Linked DNA regions of Homo sapiens. The protein of the gene in region 3 purifies or fractionates together with the protein of the main gene of each other region. This does not show direct contact. Each region holds a gene or a part of one and is shown on either strand. Other genes may lie near its edges.

What was found. The genes of interacting proteins can lie anywhere in the genome.
Region 1: the proteins of NEU4 (region 3) and GCA purify together in Homo sapiens (affinity purification with mass spectrometry; 2 studies listed by BioGRID and IntAct, with this or other methods). This does not show direct contact.
Region 2: the proteins of NEU4 (region 3) and GID4 purify together in Homo sapiens (affinity purification with mass spectrometry; 2 studies listed by BioGRID and IntAct, with this or other methods). This does not show direct contact.

The regions. Positions count from the first base shown.
Region 1 is NC_000002.12:162,354,128-162,357,634, forward strand, and holds part of GCA (grancalcin), read left to right. Parts: intron 1-2,310; coding exon 2,311-2,354; intron 2,355-2,630; coding exon 2,631-2,778; intron 2,779-3,507. UniProt on the Homo sapiens protein: Calcium-binding protein that may play a role in the adhesion of neutrophils to fibronectin. May play a role in the formation of focal adhesions.
Region 2 is NC_000017.11:18,056,404-18,059,910, reverse strand, and holds part of GID4 (glucose-induced degradation protein 4 homolog), read right to left. Parts: intron 3,209-3,507; coding exon of another isoform or gene 2,885-3,208; exon of another isoform or gene 2,440-2,884; intron 1,044-2,439; coding exon 942-1,043; intron 636-941; coding exon of another isoform or gene 612-635; exon of another isoform or gene 163-611; intron 1-162.
Region 3 is NC_000002.12:241,812,188-241,815,054, forward strand, and holds part of NEU4 (sialidase-4), read left to right. Parts: intron 1-1,145; exon of another isoform or gene 1,146-1,326; intron 1,327-2,291; coding exon of another isoform or gene 2,292-2,297; coding exon 2,298-2,498; intron 2,499-2,704; coding exon 2,705-2,867. UniProt on the Homo sapiens protein: Exo-alpha-sialidase that catalyzes the hydrolytic cleavage of the terminal sialic acid (N-acetylneuraminic acid, Neu5Ac) of a glycan moiety in the catabolism of glycolipids, glycoproteins and oligosacharides.

The sequences.
Region 1 (3,507 bases), about 79 Mb from region 3:
GGTTGTCTTTCATGTTAGGTGCTTTTCTCAGTTATCTGATGATACTGCTTTGCTCTTATTTTAACTAAATTGCTGATTAGAAGCCCTGAGATCATGGTTAGGCATTGATTGTGGGCTTCACTGTATGGTGATTTGGCTGGGCAGTTTTGTCTTGGAACTCTGGGTGTCAGTATCTTTAGGGATTCCCTTTTGGACTGGGTTTTCAGTTGACCTTCTGCCTGGAAAGGAGAGGTGGACTCAGAAGGGTTCTCAAATCTTTTGTAAATTGTCCTTTAATTGCCTTGCTTTTAGAAGATAGCCCTGTCTCAGCTCTGGTATCTTACATTTCAGAGACTCCTCCAGAGAATAAAATTCCAGATTTCTGCTGGGTTGGAAGTAGGTGTAGCATCCATCCAACTGAACCGAGGCAGGGAGGGGATATGAGGCTTAGAATGCTCCTTAGGTAGACATTCAGCCAATTCTTCTGTTTTTATCTCCACTTTCACACCCACTTTCAGAAGTACTGCCAATTCTTTGGCATTTGGGGTCTTCTCCAAGGGTTGCTTCTCAGCTTTTCTCATTACAAGTTCAGGAATCCATTTTCTCAGATCTAGGTTGGTTAACTCACATCCATCAGCTCTTCAACTTGCAAAATTTTGTTACTTTGTTTCCTGTCTAATTCTCTTTTTCTCTAAAGTTTTATGCCTTAAATCAGTTTACTCTCCATTCTAATGGGCTATGGGGAGGAAGTGAAAAATCTGTCAACTTTCCTGAAAAGTCTGTCTCTCCACTCTTTGTCCTAAATATTTCTTCTTATACATACACATTCCTATTCTGAGATTGAAGATCTGCTCATTTGCTGATTCAGTTTTAGCGATCTATTATCATTAATTCGGATTCTCCCACTTTATGAATGTGTGCCAAGTTAATTGTAAAGCAAAATAGATATTATTTACTTGCCCAAAAGAGGAAATACCATTCCAGAAATTTCTCATGTAATCCCCTCACTCTGACAGTTGTATAGCCTTAGCTTTGTAAACGTGGGGAACTGCCTTTCTGGGTCCCAGTTTCTTCCTTTTTTACAATTGGAACTATTATACGTTTAGCATGTTTATGTGAAATCATGTAACACACGCCACCTTACTCATGCTAAGAACACATTGAGTATCTATTGAGTTGTCAATTTGAAAATACTACAACCAACAATTCTAACATTGATACTATATTAAACATTTAAAGAAAATCAGCAATTTTAACTCTTGGAATGTCTTATAATTTTTTCTTTAGTGGGTCTAAAATTTAGCTGAAATAATTTTCTGCTTTTATAAAATGTTAAGATGTTATGGATAAAATAATTTTGAAAATTTTCATTCATTCATATTAACAAGCTGCTATTAAGCACTTTGTAAATTTAAACTGTACTAACGTGATGTTTTCTTTATCAGGGCATGAAATTAGTCTTGAGATATGTCAGCATACAAATTGAATGTAATTGGATTAGAAAAATTAGAAAAGGATTAGAAAAATTGAATTTTATCAATAGGTCATCAGTTGTAGTTCTATAAATATGAAAGTGTTAATATTTCAAATCACCCCTGGTTTTAAGATAGCTTGTATTGATTTTTTCTTCCTTTTTTCTCCCCCCAACCCCCGAGAAAAACCAGTTGCTTCAATTCAGATGCTCATTTTTTCTTACTTGGTCTATTACAATAAATTACCAATGGACTTACCTATTTCCAATATCATCTCACTTTATATTTTATTCATTGTAAACTAAGTTTCTAAAATGGAAATTTTAGAATTTCCCTTCTGCTTCTGAAAACACTTCAGTGGCTTTTCATTGGCCCAAACTTTTTGGGGGTAGTATTCAAAAGTTTCATGATTTGGCCCTCATTTGCCTTTCTGATGTCATCATATGTCACTCTCTCCCATATACTTTAATGCAAGTTTTGTGATCTCTGAGTACATGTCAAACTTCTACTTTAACTCCACTTGTCATTTGTGTTATGAAGACTGGAAGCCTTCCTTTTCCCCAGGCTTGGGTGAAGCCAAGTGCTTTACATACCTGGAATGTCTTTGTCACAGTAATTTTCAGTTAGTTTGTAATTGCTCATTTAATTAACTTAGTCCCCTCACTAGATGTGAGTACTTTGAAGGCAGTAATTTTTTTTAAACAATGGGTGCTTAACATTCAATAATAGCTTGTTGATTGTGGTGATTTTATATATTTTGGCAGTTTTTTAATGTTTTATTTTGAAACTGGAGATTGTCATAATTTTACATAGATAAAGTTGGGCATACTCTAATTTAAATATTGAATATGTTTTACAGCCTTCAGTTTGGAAACCTGCAGAATTATGATTGCCATGTTGGATGTATCCTTGAATAGAAATAGAAAATACTAGAATAAAGAGTAATTGCTTTCTGACTATCAAGCCAGTGGTTAGATTTCAGTGCCTGTAGTAAACTAGTGAATTTAAAAATACTTTGTAAGATCCTGTTTAAATTCTAGGCTTTCTAGTTTTTATGCAGAAGTCTGTTCATATAATGAGTTTGGCTAAGTCTACAGAAGCATACTCATGTTTTAGTCAATGATTTAGAGTCAGATAAACTCAGGTATCAGAATTTATTTTTGTTAATAAAACTATCAGAGAGATCACACAGGAAAAATGGGATTTAATGCATTCAAAGAGCTATGGGCAGCTCTTAATGCCTGGAAGGAAAACTTCATGACTGTTGATCAAGATGGAAGTGGCACAGTAGAACATCATGAGTTGCGTCAAGCCATTGGTCTTATGGGTAAGAACATTAACATTCTTTAGAATCTATAAAGCTAATCTTTGTTCTTTGATTAGATGAACTTAATTGCTTCAATTTACTAACTAATAAAGGGATGTATTTTTTTGCCAGCAAGTTCCTTTGTTTGTTTTCAAGGTTGTAGGTAAATTCTGACCAAAGACCTCAACAAAACCATTTTAATTATGATTTTTTTCAAAAGATGATCTTCCATACATGCATACATTCTGAATTTCTTCTGTTGTGTTTAAATTTATTTCTTTGTTAGTACTTACCAGTTAGATTGTATTCTTTTATAACTTGGCAGGATATCTAATTGGGAGCCAAAGCTTGCCTCAGTCAGTCAAAAGTCTGTACAAAATAGGTTTTCAGTGGTAGAAACCATGTTTTTGTCTTTTTTTTCTTAGATAGTGCAGAACACATAGCAGGTGCCAAAATACATCAGGATGGAAAGGTTGCATTTTAGAGTAATTTAGAAGTATATAACTTTATTCTTATACCTCTGATAAGCTGATGTTCCTAGTGTACTTTTAAAATGGATAACATACAATGGTGTTTAATTTGCTTAAACTTAATGCAGTTTTAAGTAGCTTTATGAATTGTTCTTATGCTTGTGATTTACACTCTTCTAAACAAAATCTATTTGTATGAAAATTAATTTTTTGGAAGTTAAAATCTGAACCCAATGGAAGTGGGCTTATCTCAAATTGCAATTTAAATAAGTCAAATTAG
Region 2 (3,507 bases), on a different chromosome or scaffold from region 3:
GTTTTCACCATGTTGGCCAGGATGGTCTCAATCTCTTGACCTCATGATCTGCCTGCTTCAGCCTCCCAAAGTGCTGGGATTACAGGTGTGATCCACCACGCCCGGCCGATCCCCACTTCCTAAAGTGGTTAGCTATGCAAAATAAAGACCAGGAAAGGCAACTCAATATGATTCATCTTTATGAAAGCTGACAAGATTTCAAGATAAAACGACTTTTTCCCTGCAGACTGGGGACTAGGGGTTGGTATGTTCTCAAAGTTATTTAACAAACTGGCTTCCTGATTTTGCTATTCTGGGGCTGTAAATATCACGTTATCAAAGCAGGGAGCACAAATGACCTCGCAGCTAAAAGCCAATCCATCAAGTCAGTCAGGTGGGGCTCTCTGAGGTCTGCTGAGTCAAAAACCCGTGTTCCATTCCCGGTCCCTCATTTCCTGAGCTGGAGGGAAGTAGAGGAGGTGAGACTTTCCTGAGCTCTGGGAAAAGGATGTGGTGGAGGGCACCTGGCCCACGGATGGTGTTTAAGCCTGTAGAGGGATCTGGGTACAACTGATGACTAAGTTCAAAGCAAGTTTGGCTCTGCCTTGAATCCACAGAACACTTGGAGTGATTCAACTTGGGGGTTCAACAAGATTCTTGGGTGGGAGAAAGGAAAGGGAGAAGACAATGTTAGAGGCAGCCACCTAGGCCCAAATCCACTTGCTACCCACCAAAAGCACAGCGAGGAGGAGCTGTCTGGGACATCGGCAGTTAACCAGTGCGTGCCCTGGAGCTGGGCCCACTTTTTATAGGCGTGCAAAGACCCTGCCATGAAGACTTTGCCATGACAACCAGCTGTGACGAGCACTGGACATGGGGAGCCCTTGGTTAGAGTGAATATGTAGGTGCGATACAGGGCCTGGCTTGCTGGGAGTCTGGAGGGCCACCTGGTGGGAACTTACCTTCCACCTCATGAAGACGTAGTCTCCATTCTTCAGCTCTTCATAATCAAAGTCATCTGAGTTAAATGATTTTGCATACTGATAAAAAGCCAGAAACTTGCCCTGAAAGCAGAAAAGAGAGTGTGCCGATTGACTGAGAGAAGGAGAGGCTGCTCTCAGAACTATGCTTATGTGCCCAGGTAAACTCACCTTCCCAAGGCATGACAGCTAGGGACGTGGCTCCCAAAAGGGCAGCTAAGACCAAGTAACAGATGGGGCCCTATGGTCACCCCATTGAATGCAGACTCAACCCTGGGGCAGATACCTGGACTCCAGCTGGGGCCCCACTGCCCTACACCTGCCTTGTTAACATGGCTGAGGAAAAGGCCAAAGGATGGGAATGGTGAACAGACAGACAAAATAAACAGACGAAAGCTAAGAAAAATTAATGAGAAGACCTCTGCAAGTAAATCCGAAGTAGCAAAAAGAGCCATGCAAAACAGCTTAGAAACAGCCTGCCCAGTCTCAGAGAAGAGGGCTTTGTGAAGCTTGTGTCTCTGCATGATCTAGGGGCTTGGGCCAGCTAGCTAAGCAGACACTAGAAACACATGATAGCCTTGTCCTTCGATATCTGCGAGAGATTGGTTCCAGGACCCCCATGAATACCAAAATCTGCAGATGCTTAAGTCCCAGATATAAAACAGTGCAGTATTTGCAGATAACCTACACACATCCTCCCCTATACTTTATAGCATCTCTAGATTGCTTATAATACCTAATTCAATGTAAATACTAAGTGAATAGTGGTTATACTGTATCGTTCAGGGAAAAATATCAAGAACAAAAAATCTATACATCCACTGGGTGTGGGGGCTCACGCCTGTAATCCCAGCACTTGGGGAGGCCAAGGCAGGCAGATCACAAGGTCAGGAGATCAAGACCATCCTGGCTAACACGATGAAACCCTGTCTCTACTAAAAATATGAAAAAATTAGTTGGGTGTGGTGGTGGTCGCCTGTAGTCCCAGCTACTTGGGAGGCTGAGGAGGAGAATGGCGTGAACCCGGGAGGCGGAGCTTGCAATGAGCCGAGATCGTGCCACTGCACTCCAGCATGGGCAACAGAGCGAGACTCTGTCTCAAAAAAAAAAAATCTATACATCATCAGTACAGATGCAATTTTTTTTTTCAAATATTTTCAAACTGTGGCTGGTTGAATCCACAGATACAGAACCCACATATATGGAGGGCTGACTACATTTACAACAGGAGATTAGGAATAGGTTACAAAACTGTATTTTATGATCCCATTTTTTAAAAAAAAGACAAAAAACAAGTATACACTGTATACCCAAAAGAGATTCAGGAAGAGGTTAACAGCTATTTTAGTTTTAGGTGTTGCCATAGATGACTCCTTTTCCTCCAGCTTTTCTATTTTTTCAAATATTTTTAAACAAGCATGTGTTAATTTGATAAGAAAACATCTTAAATAAAAAATCAAGACACAGAGATATTAAGTCATAGATTTTGTCACATAGATTTATTTTATTATTATTTTTTGAGACAAAGTCTTGCTCTTGTTGCTCAGGCTGGAGTGCAATGGCATGATCTCAGCTCACTGCAATCTCCGCCTCCCAGGTTCAAGTGACTCTCCTGCCTCAGCCTCCCGAATAGCTGGGATTACAGGTGTGTGCCACCATGCCTGGTTAATTTTTATATTTTTGGTAGAGATGGGGTTTCACCATGTTGGCCAGGCTGTTCTCGAACTCCTGACCTCAGGTGATCCATCTGCCTCGGCCTCCCAAAGTGCTGGCATTACAGGCATGAGCCACCACACCTGGTGTCACATAGACATTTTTATCCTATGTAGACTGAATATATGGAATCCTGACTTTATAGTACCACTATAATAGCAACTTAAATACCACTCAGGAAAATCTGAGGATGCAATACAATATCTCTGATTCTAGTTTATAATGAAAAAATGACAGCCTAGGTGAAGTGTATTAGACATTGTAAATCTCAGACAAACCCAGGTGCAGTACAGAGCTCCAGGAGTCCCACGTGGGAACCTGGGAGTCCTCCATGAGTGGTGAAAGTTAGGGGAAATGCTGAGTACTACAAAAGCAGCCACAAACTGTTGGAGGAGGAAGCACTCCATAGGTTCAGCTCCCTGGCTCAACCACACCTCACATGCCAGTACCAAGGGTGGCCTTCTTAGTTCCTCTCTCACCCAAAATGTTTCAGTCCAGTCTAGCAGAGTCTGCAGATCCAGATATCTTCCAATGTTCTAACGGAAGTCAATGGGAAAATTAAGAGTTGCTTTCCAAGTATTTAATTTGTAGTCAACCTAGCCTAAAACTGAGTGTCACTGGGCCTCAAAGACTTTGCTTTTTGCAGGACCAATATGAAATGGAAAATAGAGTTGAATGGGAGAGAGGCTGTGGTTTACTACAAGGAAGAACCTTCTACTCTGGGACTGTACAGGAGAGGAAGGAGCCATCTCGTGAGGCAGCAAGCCATGCAGGAAGAGCCTAGCCCTGGGCAGGGGTGGGCGCAGATGGTACTAGGGAGCCCTTCCAACTCCAC
Region 3 (2,867 bases):
TGAGGGGTTGGCGGGGGTGGGGGGGGTGGTCTGTGATGGCCCCCTGCTGAGCCAGAGTGACCCCTACAACCGGTCCAGGGGTCCACGGACCAGAAGGCCAGGTTCTCCTGGAGGTCCCATCTCCCCTGGGCCTCGGTTTCCCCTTCTGTGACTCCACACCCCCAAGGAGGGCCCTGTCAGGGAGGGCGGGGGGCACTGGTTAATGTCCAGGACATGGCTGTCCCAGTCAAGCCAAACCCCTGGAATGTGCTGAACTGGCTACACTGAGCGGGGCTGGCCTCCGAGACAGAGGGGCCTGCCGAGGACACGGAGGCTCTGTGGAACCCAGGGAACTGGTCACACTGAGGACACGGAGGCTCTGTGGAACCCAGGGCCTGGCCACACTGAGCACGGCTGGTCCCCCAAGACAGAGGGACCTCCTGAGGACACAGAGTCTCTGTGGAACCCAGGGCCTGGCCACATGGAGGACACGGAGGCTCTGTGGAACCCAGGGCCTGGCCGTGGCAAGGAAGCCCCAAGCCAAGTGTGTGTCAGCCTTGTCCTCTCTGTGGGCCTCAGTTTCCCCTCTGTGCAACAAGGGGAGTGACCAGCTGGTTTCTGGAGTCTCCTCCTCTCCCTCTCTGTCCCCAGGGGTGGGCCTGGGCCTCATGTCTGCAGGGGGTGCTGACACCTGCTCCTGTGGTCCGGGCCTTGGGGAGGGAGCCAAGTGCAGAGAGAATGTCTTGCTTGTGCCTGCTCAGCCCAGAGGGACACATGGCGTCTGCACCTGCTTCCCGCTTGGGCACAATTGCCCTTTGAGAGCAGAGCCAGGGGCTTCTTGGGGACGGAAGCTGCTCTCAGAAGCCGCGCACTGGTGGTGGGGGAGCGGCAGGAAGGGGCCGGCCAGCTGTCCTAGCCAAGAGCCTTTCAGGAACCGGTGGCCCAGGGCAGAGGTGGCTGGAGGTGGAGCTGTCTGTTTGGGCCTCAGGTGTCGGGGCAAGGCCTGCTTGGGTTTTACACGAGTGTTGCGCCTTTACCCGGGTCTCTGTCAGTGGGTCCCGCCTGACCCGTGGGTGTGCATGGGTCCCCGTCGTAGGCAGGCGTTCTGCCCTGGCCAGGCGTGGTGTCCGGCATCCGGCCATCTCCCTCCTCCCTCCTTCCCTTAGCCCCGCATCCAGGTGCCCCGTGTGCCCGGCCTGGGCGGCTGGCCGTGGATCTGACCGCTCCTGCATGGTGGAGGACCAGCGTTCCCACTGTCTGCAGCTGTGCCACCTCCCTGTGCCGGGCTGTGCGTGCTCACGCTCGGCTCCGTCTGCCTTTGTGCGATCAGACTGAGAGACCCCCCAGGCAGGTCCCGCCTGCAACAAGCAGACCCCATGCGTGCCCCAAATGCCCCCTCACCCGGGCCCTGCCCTGGTGGGTGTTGCCTGGGAGCAAACTCCCAGAATGGCCGCCGGGCCCCACTCGGCTTTGGAGCTTCTGATTCCTGTGGGCGCTTCTCAGGTCAGGGCCCTGCAGGTGGGAAGCACCAGGCACTGGAATGAGGGCACTGTGGGGCCAGCTGCCTGCAGGCAGGGGTCTGATCACCAAGCACCTGTCCCCTGCAGGATCCCTGGCTGTGGCTCCCCCGATGACGTTCAGGAAGTGGGAGCCGATCCCCTGTCCCCAGAGAGCCCCGTGACTCCCCCGATGACGTTCAGGAAGTGGGAGCCGATCCCCTGTCCCCAGAGAGCCCCGTGACTCCCCCGATGACGTTCAGGAAGTGGGAGCCGATCCCCTGTCCCCAGAGAGCCCCGTGGCTCCCACAGGTCCCTGTGGGCTCACCTCTTTGTGTCTCTGCTGTGGCTTCCACGGTGCTGTGGCCTCTATTCTGGGGACACTGAGCTCCTCCTTGCTCGAGGTTTTGGGTCCTCATTGTCCACATGACCTCCTGCTGGGCGAATTCTGGGATGACCCTGTGTCCTGGGCACATGGCTGGCAGGGTCCCGGGGGCTCTCTGGCCAGCCTCCCCTGCACCCTGGCACCAACCAGCCTGGCCGAGGGTCAGCTCCCAGAGCCGTGTTGAGAGGGGAAGGGGCTGATTCCACAGACATTTGGGGTGGAGTGGGTGCGAGGGAGGGTGGGGGAGGGGCTGCTCCAGATCTGGGGTGAGGGAGTCAGAAACAGGGCTGACCCCAAGGTGGGTACAGGAAGAGGCCCAGGTGTGGGCAGGAGCTGTCTGCACCTCCTGAGCGCATTCCCCAGTCCAGACCGGGAGCGAGTGTGGGGCTCCCTGGGCCTGTCTTGCTGACCTGTGGCCCTGTACTGACCAGCAGAGCATGGGGGTCCCTCGTACCCCTTCACGGACAGTGCTCTTCGAGCGGGAGAGGACGGGCCTGACCTACCGCGTGCCCTCGCTGCTCCCCGTGCCCCCCGGGCCCACCCTGCTGGCCTTTGTGGAGCAGCGGCTCAGCCCTGACGACTCCCACGCCCACCGCCTGGTGCTGAGGAGGGGCACGCTGGCCGGGGGCTCCGTGCGGGTGAGTGAGTGGCCGGGGGCTCTGTGTGGGTGTAGTGGCCGGATCTGCTGGGGCTGCACACCCCGGGATGGGGCGGGGGTGGCGGCGGCAGGCAGATGCCCGAGGTAGAGATGAGCAAACCAGGCTCAGCGATCCTGGGTGCCCTGCGGGGGGCTGTGCCCAGGTCCCTGGACGTCCTGGTCAGCGGAACTTCCTCCTCTGGGCAGTGGGGTGCCCTGCACGTGCTGGGGACAGCAGCCCTGGCGGAGCACCGGTCCATGAACCCCTGCCCTGTGCACGATGCTGGCACGGGCACCGTCTTCCTCTTCTTCATCGCGGTGCTGGGCCACACGCCTGAGGCCGTGCAGATCGCCACGGGAAGGAACGCCG